Regions from separate parts of the Homo sapiens genome. Here region 2 is linked to region 1. Evidence: fine-mapped expression QTL. Tissue or cell type: whole blood. Region 1 holds a variant in brackets; the other region holds the start of a gene. All regions are shown on one strand. Distances are between the middles of the regions.

Evidence for each region. PIP is the estimated chance that this variant, and not a neighbour inherited with it, causes the effect.
Region 2: DCAF4L1 starts here. The variant in region 1 is fine-mapped to the expression of DCAF4L1 in whole blood (INTERVAL, PIP above 0.99).

What each region holds. Positions count from the first base shown.
Region 1 is chr4:41,910,599-41,913,282 of GRCh38, forward strand. It overlaps LOC105374426 (a long non-coding RNA gene), which reads right to left. Exons shown (of 3, transcript NR_188374.1): 3 at 1-900. Among named protein-coding and RNA genes, the nearest start is that of TMEM33, 23 kb to the right of the region's middle. RefSeq lists an enhancer at 2,287-2,684. The variant A/G (reference allele first, on the strand shown) is at 1,246.
Region 2 is chr4:41,980,266-41,982,949 of GRCh38, forward strand. DCAF4L1 (DDB1 and CUL4 associated factor 4 like 1) reads left to right here and starts at 1,491. Exons shown (of 1, transcript NM_001029955.4): 1 at 1,491-2,684. The coding sequence starts at 1,528. RefSeq lists enhancers at 1,222-2,421, 1,981-2,684.

The DNA of each region.
Region 1 (2,684 bases):
GTTAACAGAGTGCTAAATTACTGGAGATTGAAGAATAAGAGTGGAAAAAGAGCATTTGGTAATTTCTTTTTTTTTTTTTTTTTTTTTTGAGACAGAGTCTTGCTCTGTCACCCAGGCTGGAGTGCAGTGGTGCGATCTCGGCTCACTGCAAGCTCCGCCTCCCGGGTTCACGGCATTCTCCTGCCTCAGCCTCCCGAGTAGCTGGGACTATGGGCACCCGCCACCACACCCAGCTAATTTTTGTATTTTCAGTAGAGACGGGGTTTCGCCATGGTCTCGATCTCCTGACCTCATGATCCACACGCCTCGGCCTCCCAAACTGCTGGGATTACAGGCATGAGCCACAGCGCCCGGCCTAGCATTTGGTAATATCTTGATGTTGCTAGTTTTGTTTTAGGAATGTGTTTCCCTCATGAATTCCAGGAGCACAGGTGGTTGGAAGGGCTCTCTTGACAGTGATTTTATAGCTCACCATCAGATCACAGCATAAGACTGAAGGCTTGACTCATCTTTCTTCTCTTGTCCTTAGTTTGTCCATTTGTAAAAGGAGAGAGATTTTGCTGGAGGATATTTGAGGACTCTTTTATCTCTAACATCCCATGAATTGCAAACATTATTAACTACTGTTACCTTTCATGACAGCAGGTAGTTGAATCCAAATTGCATTCTCTTTTCTAGTTAATGTGTTTCAGCCTTCTGCGATTTTGTATTAGACAAGAAATATATGGGACCCTCTTTTTCCTGACATGAGGGAATACAGCTGGTAATTTGCATCTCTCTTGGGGACCTAGATATACTTTCACATCATCTGCTTTCTTCTGAAGACTTGAGGTGTCTGAACAGGATAGTACTAAAGTCACTGTTAAGTCAAGACCAGGCCGAGAAAAACTTCCTTTGTATCTGCAAAATAAAACACACAATGTTTTAATACTAAAGATTTTTAAGCCCACTCTATTGACTAGGAATGGCTTTCTTATTACTACATAGTATATTTTATTTTCTTTCTTTTTTTTTTTTTTTGAGACGAATTCTCATCCTTTCACCCAGGCTGTTGTACGTGGTGTGATCGCAGCTCACTGCAACCTCTGCCTCCCAGGTTCAAGCGATTCTCCTGCCCCAGCCTCCCAAGTAGCTGGGATTACAGGCGTGTGCCACCATGCCTGACTAATTTTTGTATTTTTTGGTAGAAATGGGGTTTCACCATGTTGAACAGGCTGGTCTCGAACTTCTGACCTCAAGTGACCC[A/G]CCTGCCTCGGCCTCCCAAAGTGCTGGGATTACAGGTGTGAGCCACTGCGCCTGGCTCATAGTATGTATTTTGAAGTATAGAATTGCTGAGAGACCTTTAAACTCATCTCAGCATTTTGCGCGGATGTCTCCAGGACTCTTGCCATTCTGAGCTGAGCACTCCTTGCCCAATTTTTACTCCCCTATCTTCTCCAGCATCTACTCTCCCTCTGACACAGCCCCATACACTACAGGCTTCTACATGGCCATCTTTAATTCAATTCAGCAAATATTCATGGATGCATATGACCTGCCCAGCTCTGCGGTGGGTGTTAGGGATATAATCTTCAATATAATTAGGGACCTACCACATGAATTAACCACAAAGCACTCCTCTGGGTTATGTAAACAAATTGACCTACTGCGTAGGTTCGCTTAACATTGAACACTTAAAAATTAGAAAACCAGTGCCTCAGATTATTTTCTTTTTTTTTTTTTCCACAGTTAATGAAAATTTCCTCACCTTGCTGACATTGGAAACTTTGTCGTGTAATGCTTTGTCTGATTCATGACAATAGAACAATTTTGTCATTATCTACAAGGAAGGACACTTCTATTTAGAATGTTAAGAGAAAACATAGATATTTCTTTCCTTTCATCCAAAAGTGAAAACCAAACTATAAACATATACATTAAAGGAATTGGTGCAGATATGGTTTGAATATATGTCCCCACCAAGTCCCAAGTTGAATTGTAATCCCCAGTGCTGGAAGTTGGGCCTGGTTGGAGGTAGGGCCTGGTGGGTCAGGAGGGTCAATCCCTCATGGTGCTATCCTCCTGATAGTGAGTGAGTTCTCACGAGATCTGATTGTTTATGTGTGTGGCACCACCCCCATCTTGTTCCTGCTCTCACCATGTGAAGTGCCGGCTCCGACTTCACCTTCTGCCATGAGTAAGAGCTTCCTGAGGCCTCCCCAGAAGCAGATGCCAGCACTGTTTCCTGTACAGCCTGCAGAACTGTGAGCCAATTAAACCTCTTTTCTTATAAGTTACCCAGTCTCAGGTATTTCTTTCTAGCAATGCAAGAACGGCCTAATACTGGTGCTAACATACGACATTCATAAACACAAATAAAATAATGTGGTCTGTCAAGAGGCCATTCTGCCCACCCTAGTTCTGTAGATGGGTAATTAGGAGATAGATTTGGCAGAAACATTATTCATCAGAAATCCATGTCAAGTTCATATGCTCTTGGCCTAGCTGGCTCCTGCTCACCAAATCAAAATCTGAATAAAAGTTGGAAAAAAGTTTTAATTTGCCTGGATATATTTCTTCATGAGATAAAAGAAGATATAGCTAAATATTCAATAGCAGAATAATTATATCTGAAATCACCTTGCTTTTCCTGAAATGTATTAAAGCTGCATTTTACAAGAAAGGATTTTGACTTCTAGTTTTGA
Region 2 (2,684 bases), 70 kb after region 1:
TCATGTAATAGGTACTAATGTCCTGAACAGAACATGAAAGACACTAACCATTAATGAAACAAATGGACAATTTGGATAAATTCATAATTTATTTACTTATTTTTCTTTCTTTTTGAGACAGGGTCTTATTCTGTCTCCCAGCTGGGCTGGAGTGCAGTGGGGTGATCACTGCAGCCTCAACTTTCAGGGCTCAGGTGATTTTCCCTCCAAGACTCCTAGGCTCAAGTGATTTTCCCTCCCAGTCTCCTGAGTAGCTGGGTCTACAGGTGTGCACCATACCCCGCTAATTTTTGTATTTTATTTATTTATTTATTTTTTGAGACAGAGTCTTGCTCTGTTGCCCAGGCTAGAATGCAGTGGCGCGATCTCGGCTCACTGCAAGCTCCGCCTCCCGGGTTCACGCCATTCTCTTGCCTCAGCCTCCAGAGTAGCTGGGTCTACAGGCGCCCGCCACGATGCCCGGCTAATTTTTTTAATTGTTGGTAGAGACGGGGTTTCACCGTGTTAGCCGGGATGGTCTCAATCTCTTGACCTCGTGATCCGCCTGCCTGCGCCTCCCAAAGTGCTGGGATTACAGGCGTGAGCCACTGCGCCCGGCCTAATCTTTGTATTTTTTTAGAGACAAAGTTTCACCATGCCGCCCAGGCTGGTCTCTAACTGTATTTTAAAAATACAGGCGGCCGGGCGCAGTGGCTCACGCTTGTAATCCCGGAACTTTAGGAGGCTGAGGCGGGCCGATCATGAGGTCAGCAGATCGAGACCATCTGGCTAACACGGTGAAACCCTGTCTCTACTAAAAATACAAAAAAAATTAGCCAGGCGTGGTGGCGGGCGCCTGTAGTCCCAGCCACTTGGGAGGCTGAGGCAGGAGAATGGCGTGAACGTGGGAGGCAGAGCTTGCAGTGAACCGAGATCGCGCCACTGTACTCCAGCCTGGCCGACAGAGCGAGACTCCGTCTTAAAATAAAAAATAAAAAAATAAGAAATACAGGCAGGGCGCGTGGGCTCATGCTTGTAATCCCAGCACTTTGGGAGGCTGAGGCGGACAGGCTGCTTGAGCTCAAGAGTTCCAGACTAGCATCGGCAAAGCAGGGAGACCCCATCTTTACAAAAAAAGTAGCCTGGCATGGTGTTGTGAGCCCATAGTCCCAGCTAAGTAGGGCAGAGGTAGGAGAATCACTTGAGCCCAGGAGTTCCAGGCTGCAGTGAGCCGTGGTCGTGCCACTGGACTCCAGCCTGGGTGAAAGAGCAAGACCCTGTCTCAAAAAGAGAAAGGAAAAAATTTAACATCAAGAACTTCCTTTCATCAAGACACCACTGAGAGAATACGACAACCCACAGAGTAGGAAAAGAGATTTGTAATACACATCTGTAACAATGGACTTCCTCCTAGAATAGAGAGGATAAAAAGTAGCAACACTTCCGCTTGCACCCGGACGGAACTTCCTGTCACGGAAAAGAACATCCTGTCACGGAGAAGAACATCCTGCAGAATTTCCTGTCACGAGGAACATTCCGCAGGAGGAAATGGAGGCTGAAAGGCTGCGACTCCTCGAGGAAGAGGCCAAGCTGAAAAAGGTAGCCAGAATGGGATTTAATGCATCTTCCATGCTCCGAAAAAGCCAGCTAGGTTTCCTCAACGTCACCAGTTACTCCCGTTTAGCCAACGAGCTGCGTGTGAGCTGCATGGAGCGGAAAAAGGTCCAAATTCGGAGCTTGGATCCCTCCTCTTTGGCGAGCGACCGATTTAACTTCATTCTGGCGAGTACCAACAGCGACCAGCTCTTCGTAGTGAACCAGGTCGAAGTCGAAGGCTCCAAGTACGGCATCATCAGCCTGCGAACTCTGAAGATCCCTTCGTTCCACGTGTACGTGCTCAGAAACCTCTACGTCCCCAACCGGAAGGTGAAGTCCCTGTGCTGGGCCTCGCTGAACCAGTTGGACTCTCACGTTCTGCTGTGCTTCGAGGGAATCACAGATGCTCCAAGCTGTGCAGTGCTGCTCCCAGCGTCGCGGTTCTTAAGTGTTCACACAAGAGTTAACCAGCCTGGCATGCTCTGCAGTTTCCAGATCCCAGAGGCCTGGTCCTGTGCGTGGTCCCTCAACACCCGGGCATATCACTGCTTTAGTGCAGGCTTGTCTCAGCAGGTCCTGTTGACCAGCGTGGCGACGGGACACCAGCAGTCATTTGATACCAGCAGTGATGTCTTGGCCCAGCAGTTTGCTAGTACGGCTCCTTTGCTGTTTAATGGCTGTCGCTCCGGGGAGATCTTTGCCATTGATCTGCGTTGTAGAAATCGAGGCAAGGGGTGGAGGGCCACTCGCCTGTTCCATGACTCAGCAGTGACCTCTGTGCAAATCCTCCAAGAAGAGCAATGCCTGATGGCATCAGACATGACTGGAAAGATCAAGCTGTGGGATCTGAGGGCCACTAAATGTGTAAGGCAGTACGAAGGTCACGTGAATGAGTCCGCCTATCTGCCCCTGCATGTGCACGAGGAAGAGGGAATCGTGGTGGCAGTGGGCCAGGACTGCTACACGAGAATCTGGAGCCTCCATGATGCCCACCTGCTCAGAACCATCCCTTCCCCGTACTCTGCCTCCGAGGACGACATTCCCAGCGTGGCCTTCGCTTCTCGGCTCGGGGGCATCCGGGGAGCAGCACCAGGGCTGCTCATGGCTGT